2 separate regions of the Homo sapiens genome follow, and region 2 is linked to region 1. The links come from fine-mapping of genetic effects on gene expression. Tissue or cell type: whole blood. Region 1 holds a variant in brackets; the other region holds the start of a gene. All regions are shown on one strand. Distances are from middle to middle.

Evidence for each region. PIP is the estimated chance that this variant, and not a neighbour inherited with it, causes the effect.
Region 2: RALGAPA2 starts here. The variant in region 1 is fine-mapped to the expression of RALGAPA2 in whole blood (TOPMed, PIP 0.98).

What each region holds. Positions count from the first base shown.
Region 1 is chr20:20,391,262-20,399,366 of GRCh38, reverse strand. It overlaps RALGAPA2 (Ral GTPase activating protein catalytic subunit alpha 2), which reads left to right. Exons shown (of 40, transcript NM_020343.4): 39 at 2,633-2,672; 40 at 6,114-8,105. The coding sequence ends at 2,637. Among named protein-coding and RNA genes, the nearest start is that of INSM1, 27 kb to the right of the region's middle. RefSeq lists a silencer at 2,828-3,122 and enhancers at 3,495-4,038, 4,039-4,583, 5,378-6,577. The variant G/T (reference allele first, on the strand shown) is at 5,023.
Region 2 is chr20:20,707,847-20,715,951 of GRCh38, reverse strand. RALGAPA2 (Ral GTPase activating protein catalytic subunit alpha 2) reads left to right here and starts at 3,308. Exons shown (of 40, transcript NM_020343.4): 1 at 3,308-3,577. The coding sequence starts at 3,472. RefSeq lists enhancers at 2,848-3,047, 2,872-3,166 and a silencer at 3,158-3,417.

The DNA.
Region 1 (8,105 bases):
CAACTTTTTTTTTTTTTTTTTTTGAGACGGAGTTTCGCTCTATTGCCCAGGATGTAGTGCAATGGCATGATCCCAGCTCACTGAAACCACCTCCCCAGTTCAAGCGATTCTCCTGCCTCAGCCTCCCAAGTAGCTGGGATTACAGGTGCCCACCACCACACCCAGCTGATTTTTTGGTATTTTTAGTAGAGACAGGATTTCATCATGTTAGCCAGGCTGGTCTCAAACTCCTGACCTTAGGTGATCCACCCGCCTTGGCCTCCCAAAGTGCTGGGATTACAGGCGTGAGCCACCGTGCCCGGCTGTCACAACCTTTTATCCATTATCACCCCACCGTGGAGCCTTCTGAGACATTTTGGTTTCCTAATTTGTCCCCTCCCCTGAAACACCACAGAAACACTGTGTATCTGTTTACTTACAGTACTTAGACCTGTGCTGTATGCATATAAAGAGTAGGCTATTTTGCCACCCCAAGGGGTGATATCCCCTCATTAGACTGCATGCTGTAACTTTTCTCCCAGATCCCCTGGAGGCAGCGGTTTCATCTGCTTTGGTCACCACTGTAACCCAGAGCCTAAAACAGTACCTGGCACATATCTGCTGCTCATTTGACAAAGGGATAGGACAGTTAGGCTTTGTGTCTCTCCCCTATCGCCCCCAGACGTCAGGTCCCTCCTGGCCTCTTCCCACCCCCCATCTCCGAGCACATTGCCCTCCAGGTGCCCTCCACACTGCCCAGGTTGGTCAGTGCCCTGTGCGTACCCCAGAGATGTATCAGGAAGCTGACAGCTTACTCCTCTGCTCCACGACTGGAACCCCACCCTTTGGGAGCACCGCCGTGTGTCAAGGGCAAGTGACATTTGAGCCCCATGGAATAATCAAGGCAGCCCCCAACTGTCTCTGTCTTTGCATCTCCTTAACTCAACCATGGATTGGCAGTTACTGAGACATTCTTTGTGGTCCAGCACACCACACCAGGCTGCGTCTGGGGATGCACAGGAGAGGGGCAACCCAGTCCTCATCAGCAATTACAAACAAGTCCTCCATTGTTAGCTGCGCCATCTGCTTTCTTGGTTTCTACCAATCGGGTGCCTGTACGCACAGCATAACCAGGGCTGAGGGGCTGCAGAGGAGTGAGATCAAGGAGCGCCTTCATAAAGAGACCCTTTGCTCACACTGGAGGGTGTCAGTGGCATGGTGCTCTAAAAGCCGAACTTCCTCAACTCAAGGAAGACCCACGCAGATATGCTCTATGTTTGCCCTCTTCCATGAGAGGAAATGGGGGCCCTTCAGCACAGCACATTGGGGGGAAATCAGAAATCTAAATGATTAATCATCCCGAGGATCCATGGAAAACATTCTAGCCCATGACCAACAGTCAGCAGCAGCCCAGAACCTCTTGTGCCCAAAGAGCACAACCAGGTGTGGAGAAGGAACGGTGTTAACGGTGGTTGGAAATCAAACCAAGGATCATACACGACCCACGATCAGTTACTGATCCAGAATCTCCTAACCCCAAATAATTTTCTTGGGAGAAAGGGACAATTTTCATCAATAGATTGGAAAAGATGTCTCCATAGCAGTGCACGTTTCTTTCATGGAGCCTTGGCTAAAAGAATGTTAGTGGTCACCTCCTGATGGCTGCTGGAGCCACCATCTTAGAAGTTTGCCCCTGTCACTGTGCCAACCTTGGCAACCTTGGCAGAGGGGGTCAGCAGAAAATCCACGTTTACAACTGTGACTGTGCAGACAATGGTCCACGTCACTGATAAATGTCCTTTGTCCAGATCTGATGGTCGTCTACTGACACAGAATTCAGGAGAGTTGTGGGGGCTGAGAGTTCAGGAGAAGCTACTGCCTGACGCAGAAAGAGGATGCATTTGCCAAGGAAACCCCGCCGTAGGAAATAGGATGGCGTGGAAGGGGTGGAAGAACCTGTCACAAGGCATAGAAAAGCTAAAATCCCCCTCAGTTCTGTGTGACTACTGAGACCCTGCTGCTCTGTGGGTGAGAGTGACCTTATGGTCCAATTTCACCACTCCAGGGAACCCTCCCAAGCTTTCCTCTGCACAGGATGCTGTGTGTTCCCTCCCTGGGGACTGTCATATTGCAGGTGACACCAGTATTAACACACTGTGTATAACTCAGAAACCTGTAAAATGAAACTTGGAGACATGTAAACTTGCCCACCTAGGGGGTTTCAATTATTTTTTCAGGTCATCCATTGAATTTCAAATGCTTGTCTTGAAAACACTTTTATCTTTGTATTTTAAACAAAATCAGTCAGGAAAAGTTGGAGAGCAGGGAAAGGATATAGCTGTCAGTGCTGTTCAGCATCTGTAGGGCTCCTGACAAGGTCTGCATGCATAGATCCTGACAAGGTCTGCATGCGTAGATCCTGGGAGTTCTAATGTCTCTCTCATTTCACATTTGTAAACACGACATCGGCTTGTATTTTGTCCTATCAAGTAGAATTTTCAAGTGAATGTTCAGTTTTTACTGATTGACAAGGCTGCAGAAATGCTTGGGCAGCTCAGGGATAAATGTATTATTAGCACTGTGTTAGTTATCAAGTTGGAGCTGTGGGGGTGTTGTGTTTGTATTCATTCCATTTTGTGTTCTTTCCCTTCAGATTAAAACACGTAAAGGTCTCATTTCAATATTTGAGCAAGGTAAGACAGACACTTCAGTGGATTTGTCCAGCCACCCTGCTTTGGGGAGGGGGTGGGACTTTTCTAATCGGCTGCCCTCGGTAGCGGACCCTGCATCAGTGCTCCTCGCCCTCCTGGGCCTTCCCCTCCCCGGGGGCCCTGCCCACACTCCTGCCCCTGCATGTCTGCGCTGCCCGGGGAAGCCCAGCCTTGCCTTTCTTCTGCCCGTGCACTCGGGGAGGAATCCGACACCAACACCTGCCATCCCGGAAAATGTCTTTGTCGCCTGCCCTTTTGTGTGTGGGGCTGCAGGGAGCCAGCGGGCGCTGGGGCCGCCCCCTTTTTTGTTGCCCAGGCCTGAAGGAGCAGGGTCTTGAGATGGGCCGATAAGACACGGCACGTGCTGGGCCGGCCTTTGACCGCCAGCCTTAATGGAGGCCTCTGAGACCTCCATGCGGGGAGGGCAGGTTGTGGCGGGGGCTGCTGAATGGAACAGCTGGGGAAGGAAAAGCGGACAAAAGCTGCGGGAGCGCAGAGGGTGGAGACCTAGGAATGGGCTGCGGTCTAGGACCCAGAGGATAGGCTGGCCATGGCAGGTGTGACCTCCCCAGCCTGCCTTTCTGTCCTGGGTCTGGGGTCCAGGCCCTGCCCAGAGCGCTCTGATGGATGGCAGCCGCCTTGGCAAGGCTGTCTGAAAACCCTGTCCCGTGTGGCCTGGGCTGCACCACCTCCCAGGCTCACAGGCGGAAGGCGAGCAGTTGGTAATGACAAGGATCACGGCAATGCCATTCACAGGAGAAAGCAAGTGAGCGAGCTGCCGTTCCTGAGCCTGTCGCCCACAGTGGAATGCAAGGCACAGACACCAGTCACTTTGTCTCAGTAAATATGGAAGTGGGATGTTAGGGTCCAGATTTGTTGGTTTATCCAAACCTTCACCCTCCTCTGCTAGGCAGGGCTGTTGGACCTGCAGGCCAGAGGAGCAGCCAGCATCACAGCCAGCCGACCCTCCAGCCAGCTGCCCTTTCTCTTCCCCTCACCCAAGGCTTAAGCCCAGTCCTGATATTGTCCCAAACTGGGCTCACTCGTGTCAGCCCCAACAGGTGACACGAGCCTCAGAGCCCAGGTGCTCATGTCAAGATGGGGCAGAGAAGGGTTGTACAGTCCCCTCCCAGCAGGGCACCTTGCTGCAAAACTTCGCATTTGCCGAGACCCCCGTCTCCATGCATGTCCTCCTGCTCCTGCCGCCAAAGTGGGGAGGTGAGGTTCGAGTGTCCTGTGAATAAATCCTTGGCTTCCATCACCGGGAGGAGGCAGTGCGAGTGGAGCAAAGCTGCGAGTGGACGTGTCATATCAGGAAGGCGGCCGTACCTTGTGTCCCGCCTACCTGTCCTGCAGCTGCCACCTCCCCACCACGGGGTGCTGTGGCACGAGGGCCCAGTGCAGATGAGAATGTCCCAGCAGAAAGCTGGGGACCAGAGGCCTGTGTAGGGCACTGTGGCACTGGCTGCAGCCCAGCTGCAGGGGTGGCTTTGCCCTTTGCCCCTGGCCATGGGATCCCTGCTTTCAGGTGCACAGGCCCCCTTCTCTGCAGAGCTTCCTGCTGTTCTCCAGGCTCACTCAGCGGGACAAAGCTGGCATTCCTCTGTCCATCTGCAGGAACTCGAGGTGCACCCCTCTTTCCCTCTTTATCCTCCCTGGGTGAGTGGGTGGGGCAGAGGAACTAAAATGTTTTCCTTCGAATCCAGAATTAGCAAAGGTTCGCTCTTTCTCTTTGGATCTCACTTTATATCTTTCATTTACTTGCCTTTTTTTTTTTTTTTTTTTTTGCTTATTTATTAGAATCAATCTGATTACCATAGTGGGCTGGGCTGTTGGAATATTGTCTGGGATTAAATCAAGTCTGTTCTCCCATGCTGCCCCACACCCTGGATTAAATGCCAGTGCCCACCACCAGCTGCGAGGGGATGGAGAGATGCCTTGTAACAATCTAGCTTCTCTTGTGGATGATGGTCTAGCTGTGCTGCCTTTGTCAGAAGCAGCCTGTTTTTGTGTTCTGAGGTTTTTCATGTGTGGTGTTTTTTTTTTGAGACTGGGTCTCACTTTGTCACCTAAGCTGGAGTGCAGTGAAGCCATCACTGCAGCCTTGACCTCCCAGGCTCAAAATCCTCTCACCTCAGCCTCCCAAGTAGCTGGGACTACAGGTGCGCACCACCATGCCTGGATAAGTTTTGCAATGTTTTTGTAGAGACGGGGTTTCACTGTGTTTCCCAGGCTGGTCTGGAACTCCTGGGCTGAAGCGATCCGCCCACCGCGCCCGGCTGCAGCCTGTTTTAAAGATGAGAATAGTGAGCCTTCTCTGTATGCCCGACCT[G/T]ACTGAGCCTAGAAGAAGGGAGGCAACCATGAAGCCCCTGGACTCTGAAAGTACTGAATTTCAGGACACCCTGAGCCAGGCTGCCTCCATAGGTCCAAGCACGTTTGCAAGTATTGATTTTGGAAACTCCTCCTAGAAACAATAAGGGAAGGTCAGAGAATGAAAAAAGATGCGTCTGTGAATAAAATAACTGACTTAAATTAATTTCAAATGCCAATAATAATAATAATTTCAAAGGCCAAAGCCCTGCAAGTGAATCACGCAGGGAGGAAGATGTGGAAACTCTGCTTCTGAGGTTGGTTCCCAGCAGAGGTCATGCAGGAAACTTGGGGCATAATACAACAGGGTTTAAAAATACACTACGAGGGGAAGGGTGATGAAATGATCCTCTCGCTCGCAGAACGGTGCTAGGGGAGACCCAGCTCCACCCGCAACAGTGGCTTGGTGTTGCAGCAGGCATTCTTGTATTCCTCTGAGCACACCGACAGCAGCCCTGGGGAAGCGGGGGGTGCAGATGTGCAGGTTTTAATTTTATTCCTTTTCCCTCCAGTGATGAACAGCTGTATGCTCATCTGGACTCATTCAGACAAGCAATTTAGGACTGACCTCTAGTCTTAGACCCTTTGGGGAATAATCGAGTTGTAACTCATTGTGTAGAATATCGATATGTAAACACGTGGAGATTCCAGGAACACCGCCAGGGATCTGCAGAGCGGCCTCTGAAGTTTCACGGGCTTTTCCATTGACTCCAGCCACTGCTTCTTCAGTGGCTCTTCCTCCCTTTCACTGTGACCAGATGCCTTTTCTCTTCATTCTTTACTTATGAATTGGACAGTAAGTCTGAATTAATTTCACAAGATTCATAGCTTCTTTTATGCTGCAGAAAAGCCCAGGGCAAAGAATAAGAAGAAAGACATTCATGTGTTTATTCATTCAACAAACATCTTTGCCGGCATAGCGTGGGAGGAGGTCACCAGACCCTTCTCCTGGGAGTTTCCCTCCCTTCTGAGTGCCACAGATCCTCCCTGAAATGTGTGGCCGTAGAGCCGCCGTTGCCTCCATGACTTAGCAGTTCTCTGCTTCCTTTGCAGGGGCCCTGGCCTCCAGTCTGAGTGCTGACCTCGAAGAGCCCCTGAGTGAGGAGGAGACAGAACACCCTCTCCTGCCTCTGCCCCGAGCCACTAAACCCAGAATCTCCAGGAAATTTCGTTGCTGTACTAGTGCCCTCAGCAGGTCTTCCCATTAGTGGACTTCTGAAGCCCATGGTGAATCCCACTACCGTGTCTCAGATGGGACTCAAACTAGGCTGTATCATCTTGTCCTGAAACCTCACAAACCTTGGACTTCCAAAGAAGAAAAGAAAAAGTCACCAAAAACCAGAGATGAACCCACTGACACGTGGGCACTGGTGTGGCTGCTCTGGGCAGATGACAGCAGGAAAAGATTCTGCGCTTTCAGGGAGGGGGCAGAGGGCAGCTTGCTTCTGCACCCCAAGTTGTTTCTTCTCATTTATGAACCCAAGCATGATTCACAAAGGGGCTGGCAAAACAATTGTCTAATTGAGGAATCTGATCTGCATTGATTTTGCTAGTTCCTTTTATGTTAGGATTTATGGTTTACTCAAAAATTTCATCATCATGGAAATTGGCTTTCCCCGGGGTCTTTTGCCCAGGAGAAGTTTTACCTCAGTTGTCCAGTGTTTTCCCACATGGTACCTGACGCCCGCTAACTAAGCAGAGGCTCTCCTCACCACGCAGAGGCGCTTCAGGTCATGACAGTGATGCCCCTATCTTAGAACACTCAGAAGATTCCAGAAATACAGGGTCCTGTCCTTGCATAAGTTCCTGCAGGACAGGAAGTGTCCCAAGGCTCAAAACAACACAGACCACATCCACACAAAAGGCGCATGCCGGCTTCAGGCGCTAGGCTGAGACGGGTACCCCCCGAATGGCCTTGTGCCTCCAAAAGCCTCACGCTGCAACTTTGCTGCTCCTGTCTGTTGCCCAGAGAGGCCTCACACAGGCCTCAGAAATGTTTCTTGTCACACAAAGCTTTTGGTAGCCGATTCCAAGCGAGGGATTTAATCCTTACATTTTTGCCCATTTGGCTCCAAGGAAGGCTTATTAGACCTGTTTTTTTGTTGTTGTTGTTTTTTTTTCTTAAAAACAAAATGAATGAATGAATGAAAAGAGAAGCAATGGTGAGCCCTCTCCTGCTGGGGCGCCCTGGGTGGGCCTTGCCCGTCCTGCAGCAGAGAAATCAGTCAGCAGCGAAGAGCTGCTGGCGCAGGCCCCAGGCTGTGTCCTGGACCCTTGACCTGCCTCAGAGCTAGAGGTTTGCTCCACCCCGCACTTCACTTGGGAAGTAAATCCAAGAAGCTTACCAGAGTCCATCGCCACTGCGCAGGCTTTGTTCTCACAGCGGCCAGGTACAGAGCAACGCCCTGCAGTGGGAAGGGACAGCAGCACGAGAGACGCAGCCCCTAACTCAGGGCTTATGATGGGTGGGCTGGTCCTGGGAAAGGCGGGCCCTGTGCGGGAGGCCTCCCCACCTTCCTGTGCCCTCTGCCCTCTGCCCTTGCACACACTTGTTACCTTCAGGCTGCTTGGCCACCCAGGCCTGAAGAAGCCTTCTGAGGCTCTCACCCCATCAGAACGGCCATTTTCACTGAGGAGCCAGTTTTTTCCATTTGCCATGGAGCTGGTTTGGCTGGAACCTGGCCTTTGTAGGGAAAACGGGGAGACTCAGGAGCCAGACTCACTCTTGGGACAAATGAGAAAGAGCTGAGCCAGTCGTTCCTGTCGGAAGGGCGGGCCTGCTCATCCTGGCGAGAATTTGCTTTTCTGCTTTATAGGGGATTGCAGGCCAGGCCCACTGACAGGAGCACCTTGAGAACCACCTGAACAGAAGAGAATGAGGGTGCCCCAAAGTGGAAGGAAGCTTCTGGCCCCTGGGCCGTTTTGGGAAGGGCCCAGGATACTCACGGGGGCTGAAGGGCAATGTGAAGAGTGACTGCAAGTCCTGGCATTTTCTGTGGTGTCAGCAAATGCCCCTTTATTTTAAATGATTCCAGACATCTGGGC
Region 2 (8,105 bases), 320 kb before region 1:
ATTTTTTATTTTCAGGCTTGTCTTTTTCTGTTTCAATTTTTGAATATGGAAAACATTTACATGGTTCAAAAATGAAAAAAATATAAAAAGATATACTCAGAGAGGACACTGAGTCCTTTCCACCTCATCCTCTATCCCACTTAGGTAGGCATTAATGTTAAGGTTTTTTTTTAAATCCTTCCAGTGTTATATATTAGAATATCTGCAGGGTAGATTCCTAGAAGTCAAAATTCTGGCTGGGTGTGGTGGTTCACACCTGTAATCCCAGCATTCTGGGAGGCTGAGGCCCGTGGATCACTTGAGGTCAGGCGTTCAAGAGCAGCCTGGCCAACATGGTGAAACTCTGTCTCTACTAAAAATACAAAAATTAGCCAGGCATGGTGGCACATGCCTGTAATTCCAGCTACTCAGGAGGCTGAGGCAGGAGAATCGCTTGAACCTGATAGGCAGAAGTTGCAGTGAGCTGAAATCACACCACTGCACTCCAGCCTGGGGGACAGAGCAAGACTGTCAAAAAAAAAAAAAAACAACAAAACATGGGAGGCCAAAGCCCATGGATCACCTGAGGTCAGATGTTCAAGACCAGCCTGGCCAACATGACAAAACCCCCTCTCCACTAAAAATACAAAAAAATTAGCCAGTCGTGGTTGCGCACGCCTGTAATCCCGGCTAATCGGGAGGCTGAGGCAGGAGAATCGTTTGGACCTGGCGAGATAGCTCCACTGCACTCCAGCCTGGGTGACAGAGCCAGACTTCATCTCAAAAAAAAAAAAAAAAAAAAGAAAAAGAAAAAAGAAAAAAAGAAATTGAAATTCTGGGTCAAAAGGCAAATATTTATTTTTGCCAAATTTCCTTCCATAAGAGTTGTAGCATCTAACATTTCTACCAGCTATGTTTTCTATAGCTCTGCCACCAGACTAGAGTGTGTTATCACACCTTGTCTCTGTAGAGGTTTTTTGTTTGCTTGTTTTTTCTAATTCAAATGATATTTCAGAGTAGTTTTAATTTGCATTGCAAGTTTTAAACTTTTGATCTCATTATTCTTATTTGCTGATTACTGTAGGACATTTATTCAACAACACTTAATGTCTGCATAACACTCGGCACTCTATAACTCCAGGGATAAAGAATTCAGTGCAAAGCAAGTGAAGCCCTCAAAGAGTTCACAGCCCAGCAGGAACGAGTTTAGAAAGAACAACAGAAAATAAGAAGAGCCATATGGAATATGCAAGTGGGTGAAAAAGTACCAACATAATAATACTATATGTTTCTTCCTTTTTAAGAGAAGAATTGGAGTTCTACATTTTCATTACTGGGTAAAGGCTAGATATGATGGGTGCGATGAATTTATATGCACAGATGCCTGTTTCTGGCATTACCAAGCTTGATAGTATCACATGTTCACTGTACACTGTCATTTATTCCCACATGTATCTAATCGCTCAGCCTCCTTAACTGGATTGGAAGCATTGGAGGTCAGGAGGATGCACCTTATACATCTTTTATCTCCAGGGTTTAGAATCATGCCTTACACATTGCAGGTGCTCAATAAATGTTTGATGATGATGGCAGCTTGCTTTGCAATTAAAAAAATGGAGTTTCCTAAGACAAGTATATTCTATTTTTTCAATCAGTGTAAGGAAAAGTATCTTCTCCTAAAGGAATTGGACAGTGAACATTGTGGTTTACTATGTGTAATCAGGTACAAGCTCAATTGCTGTAACGAAGACTCTCAAAATGCCTTGACTTAAGATAAGACATTATTTTGCTCTCTTGTTACACTTTTAGAAGTTTGTGGTCCTGATCTGTTATCATCTGGGGACTCAGGCTGGTAGGGCCGCTCTGCCATCATCTTGAGCATGGGGCTTTCATCTCCGGGTCTGAGAGTGATCCATGTTATTGGGTTTATCAGTAGTCTGTTCTTTTTTATTGCTGAGTAATATTCCTTTGTATGAATGTGTCTATACAAAGGAATATTACACAAATCTAAAAATAGAGAGACGCTCTAAAACTGTGAGTTTATTTATTTATTTTTTCCTTTTCGCCTGCCTGGTTGAAATATGTAGGACTACTTTAGCTTTTTATTGTATTTCATTTAATAAACTTTTATTGAGTGACCCTATGGGCCAAATACTGTGCTGAGGGATGGGGATACAAAGGCGTGTAAATCCTTGTCTCTTCCCTCAAGTTACAGTTCAGCTAGAGGAGAAAAAGACAGTTGTGTTGTCCCAATTTGGATGGAAACCACGTGATTCTACCTTAAGTACTTGCTGAAAAAGCTGAAAGGATGTCAAAACTTGCAGGATTCGGATGCCACTATACAATCCTACAGTGTAAGAAATCTCCTGACCATCTTTCAGCTCAAAGTCTTGCCCCAGGGAATAAGCGCCTGGCTTTAAAAAGTATACAGGCCTGAGTCAGATCCCTCAGGTTCTATTTCTGGTTCTGCTACTGGATCGCCATGTGGCTTGCACAACAGAGAACGCACCCTTCCTACAAAGAGGCAAGATCCCAAGGAGCCCTCTGAGCGAGCGACCTCCATACCCCAAGTGAGGTTGGGTTCCAGGAACCTAGGGGCCGGCTGAACTCCTCACCGGGGCACGCTCTTCCCTAGTGCCAAAGCAACTCATTTTAGTGTGAAATTAGAGCTGCGATTTCGGCACGGTCAGAGGGGCTTCGACTCGCTCCCTTGTGTGAATCCAGAAGCTAAACCTAAAAATAGTTTGCATTTGAAAAGCCTTGACACTTTTCTTACTGAGATTTTTGGGCGTGTGTGGTTCACGTTGCACTAGAGGAAAATGGGGTGGGCGCGCAGGAGGGAGAGTGAAACCACGGGCGATCTAGGCTGCCGGGGCAGGGGACGGACAGAGGCCGCCCTGCGCTTCTGCGACCCTGGAAAAGAGGTCGCAGCGCGTCGCCTGCTGGAGAACTTCATTTCCCAGGAGCACTTGCGGCCCGCGGCAGGGCGGGGCGACGTGCCCAATGCCGGCCCACTGACTCCCATCGTGCCGAAGACCGCCAGCCTGATTGGAGGACTGTCTCGCGGTGCATCTCGGGACTTGTAGTACAACGTGTGCGTGAGAGAAGCTCCTTTGTGATTCGAGGCGCCTTCTCGGCCCTCTGAGCGCGTCCCCGCTAGGTTTTGGCGCGGACGGGCTAGTGTCCCGCCAGGAGAGTTCGGCCTGTGTGCGCGTGCGTAGCGCCCAAGGGGCCGGCCGGCACCTCCCGCGGGGCGGGGCCTTCGGTTCCCCGTCGACACCGCCTTCCTGCCCCGCCCCTCGCCGTGACCGGCCCGCCCCTCCTTCCTGGAGACACAGCTGAGGCGGCGGCGGCGGCGGCGGCGGCGGCAGCAGCGGGGCTGGGGGCGGCGAGTGGCCCGCGCGACACGCGCCGGCCTCGACCCTATGCTTTGATTCGCGTGGCGCAGGCGCCTACTGCCCCGCCGGCGGGGCCCGGGCTTCCTGCCGCGGGATGTTCTCCCGAAGGAGCCACGGGGATGTGAAGAAGTCCACCCAGAAGGTGCTGGACCCGAAGAAGGACGTGCTGACCCGCCTGAAGCACCTGCGGGCGCTGCTGGGTGAGGCGCGCGCCGGGCGCGGGGGTCGGGGCGCCGGGTTAGGGGCACCTGCCGGGAGGGCGCTCCTCTGTGCAGGGGTCGGTGGCTGGGAGGCTGGGGAGGGGGATGGGTGGGCGTCCGACCCCCTTCCCTGGATCTGGGCTTGGACCCCCGGGGCTTTGTTTCCAGAAAGCCGCAGCCTGGCCCTCGGGCACTGCTCCCGTCGCCCTCGAGTTAAACTTAGCCCAGATTCTCGCTGGGCGCCTGCGCTCCCGGAGAACCTGGAGGCCGGGCACAGAGGTACCTGTCCCCTGTCCTCCCAGCAAGTGAACTGGATCCCAAGTGGTCATCACGTGCACACATTGAACTGTCACCTCCCCCTTTCATTTTTAAAATTTTATTTTTGAGTCTGAGACCCTAAGTAGACCGAGACCCCAAGTGAACCCAGCACAGACCTAATTGGGCTCTCATCTCTGTCATCCCCCTTTTAAATTTTATTTTTACTTTTGAGTGTGAGACCCCCATATAGACCGAGATTCCAGGCGATCCCAGCACAGATTTGTCATCTGTCTTCCCATGCTGCTTTTTAAATTTAATTTTTATTTTGGGTCTGGCTGCTTCAGTTTCTTTGTGTCCTTGGTGTGAAGGGGCCTTCTCTTCCTGCTTGGAGAGAGGGGTGGTTTTCTTGGGTTCAGGGAGGCTGCTTCTCCTTTATTACCGGCATGACAGTGATGCTGTCTGCCACCTTCTGGTTTATGGCCTGCCAGGTGGAGGTTCTGAGGAGCTCAGGTGGGCTTGGAGTTGACCTGTGATGAAGCTCGCCCCTGTGGGTGTGAGGTGTCCACAAGGCTTCCTGTCACCTGCTGCATGTGATCTGTAGCTGGTTCGCCTAGGCTATGTTTTGTTTTCTGTATTTTTTTACATCCTAAGTCTTAACTTTTCTTTGGGATGAAAACACCTTTGCTATCTATAGACACACTTACCTGTGTATTTGGTGGCGAAGGAAAGAACACCTTATGTTTCTTCCAGGTGTCTTTTAGTCCCAAAATTCACAAAAATCGCCTAGTGCTAATGTGTCTGTCACTTGAAAGAATATTGCATAAAATGATTTAACGTGTGAAGATTTTAAATAAAGATCTTGTTCATGAGATCAGAAGTTGCTGATTATTTCTATTTATATTCTACCTCTGAGGGGGAGAAGAACCCAAGCCAAACCAAACCACACCTGATTTTGCCAAGTGAAGTTATTCACAATCTCACATACCTTGAGGTTACACTGACTTGTTCAGTTTGAAATGAAATGTAAATTAGTTGCTGTTACAGGGATTCGTTTTCAAGACTTTTGAGAGTGAAGTGTGGAGAGTGAAGTGTGGCGTTCTTGGTAAACTGAATTTTCTACTTCCTGTAGATACCATGCACGCACAGGTTGCACAATACACAGGTTGCATTGTGTGGAGTTCCTGGTAGTGACTGATTAACACCTACTGCAGGGACATTTTTGATAAAGGAGAGTTGAGCTGTGTTTTAAAGCGTTTGATACTTTGAGCCTTTTTCTGTGCTTTAGCGTTTAAATTTTTGTTCTGTCCAGGTCTGCAAGATTAAGTTGGCTACATTTTATAAAGGCAGAATCAAGTAAACCTAGATCAGGTTATTTCTTAGCACACAGTACATTGTTCCCATTCTGAGAAAGTTGATTCTTTTCAAGTTTGTAAAATTGTAGTTTCACTCTAAGGTGTAGGTCTTATTTTAGGGAACTTTCTTTTATCATTTCACTGAACTCATCATGACCTCAGTTTTGTAACATGGAGAGGTTCTTTTATATTTCCTTAGGTGTATGTTTTTTGTTGATATACTTACTAGTGGAGTGGCCCAGTTTGCTTTGTTTATTACTGTGATCTTTGTAGGGACTAGATTTTTGTAAAATGTGTCTGAGGAATTCTAGTCATAATATTTAATGTAAACTTTCACTTGCTCCTGTGATTTATTAAAGACTTAAAAAGTAGTACGTAATGCACTAGTTCCTACCTAATCACATATTCTATTTCATTGCTACTCGAAAAAAAGTCTACTTAGAAAACAAAGGCCTCTTGAACTGAAAGTTAGGAATTAAGCCAAGATTAAGGAAACTATTTGAAGGAAATGAATAGTAATTACTATTGTATTTTTATGTGTGTATTTATATAACACTTTTGCTTTTCATATATTTTATCTTCAAGTGATAATAAAGTTTTTTTTTAAGTATGCAAAGATTATGCCACTTACTTGGGTATTTGCAGCCTGTCCCTGCCGCCTGCAGCTTCATGACTTGAGCTAGTTACGTAGCCTGTCTCTGAACCTCGGTTTCTTTGCTCTGTAAAATGGGTATGGTAATGTTTGCTTTTTAAAGGATTATTGTGAGTATGATGAATAAATGACTTCAGCTTGAAGTAGGCCTTTAACAGTTTCTTTCCCATTACATATCTCCCACCATTAATAGGATAGGACCAGTATTTTGATAGGTAATTTTTCTCCGTCTTTCTTATTTTTGATAATAGTGATGAATTTGTTCTCTTTTCCTAAAAAGTAGTCTGTATTTAAAACAACTGGGTGAGAAACATAAAATTAGCTGTGGAAGTAGAGTATTTCTTAGTATCATGGTAATAACTCCAATTTGGATGTAGATACTTTCACCTGGCTATAGACTGGTCTGGTATGATTAACTTTATTTTACAGAGGGGTAAGCTGAGGCACAGGCAGGCTTGACACGTATCAAGCCATGTAGCAGACGGTTTACTTATGTTAGAGGAAGAACGAAGAGCTGTTAGGTCCTGTGACTTCCAGTTCTTCCTACACTGTTGACAAAACAAAAACCAAAAAACCCTGTGTATTACCATATTGCTCCAGCAAAGATTCCATGTCTTTTTTTTAACAGGATCTTTGCTCTGTTGTCCACGTTGGAGTACAGTAGTTTGACCTTGCCTCAACTGCTGCAGCCTTGGCCTCCCTGGCTCGAGTAATCTCCCACCTCAGCCCCTGGAGTAGCTGGGGCTACAGGCATGTACCACCACACTAGGCTCATTTTTGTATTTTTTTTTTTTGAGATGGAGTCTCACTCTGTTACCCACGCTGGAGTGCAGTGGTGCCGTCTTGGCTCACTGCAACCTCCGCCTCCTGGGCTCAAGCAATTCTCATGCCTCAGCCTCCTGAGTGGCTGGGATTACAGGTGTGTACCACCATGCCTGGCTAATTTTTGTATTTTTAGTAGAGACAGGGGTTCACCGTGTTGGCCAGGCTGGTCTTGAACTCCTGGCTTCAGGTGATCTGCCCGACTCGGCCTCCCAAAGAGCTGGGATTACAGGTGTGAGCCACCATGTCCGGCCAGATTTTTGTATTTTTTGTAGAAGACGGGGTTTTGCCATGTTGCCCAGGCTGGTCTTGAGCTCACAGACTCAAACGATCCTCCCACTTCAGCCTCCCAAAGTGCTGGGCTTACAGGCATAAGCCACCATGCCTGGCCAGATTCTAATTAAAAGTTGAGTGCTTACTATGAGTCCTAAATTAGGATATAGAACTGGCATTGATGTAGTGAGAAGAATAGATACAAAATAATAGTAAATTTATGGTGTGTTATGTAATTAGATGGTCAGGTATATGGTAGAATCCATTATAGGATTTCAGAGAACAAAAGAGATAATTAAGAATGTCATAAAAATAGGGGCATCTTTAAGGAGATTTGTAGTAGTCTGTTCTCACTCTGCTAATAAAGACATACCTGAGACTGGGTAATTTATAAAGGAAGGAGGTTTAATTGACTCACAGTTCCACATGCCTCGGGAGGCCTCACAATCATGGCAGAAGGTGAATGAGAAGCAAAGTCATGTCTTACATGGTGGCAGGCAAGAGAGCTTGTGCAGGGGAAATCCCATTTATAAAACCATCAGATCTTGTGAGATTCATTCACTACCATGAGAACAGTATGGGGGAAGCCACCCTCATGATTCAATTATCTCCACCCGGCCCTTGACATATGGGGATTATTACAATTCCAGGTGAGATTTGGATGGGGACACAGCCAAATCATATCAACGTTTTACTTACGCTGGGTTCCAAAGAATGGTTAGACTAGTTCTGTCCAATAGAGATATAATGTAAGCCACATGTGCAATTTTAATCTTTTTTAGTGACCACATGTTAAAAAGTAAAAAGAATCAGGTGAAATTAATTTTAATAGTGCATTTTATTTAACTCCATGTATTTAATATATATTATATCTGCAGGTAATCAATATAAAATGCTATCAGTATTTTTTACATCTTTTTTTCATATGAAGTTTTTGAAATTCAGTGTATATTGTATACTTACAGCACATATCAGTTCACACTAGCTGTTTTTCAAGTGCTCATTAGCCATATGTCACTAGTGGCTGCACACTGGACATAGCAAGGTTAGAATCTGGGAAAGTAGAGGGGAAGGTCAATTACAACCAGGGGAAGATGGAAGAGCTGGTGGCAGAAGTAACATGACAGTGATGGTAAGTAACATGGCGAGGTGTGGTGTTGGGCACTGAGGA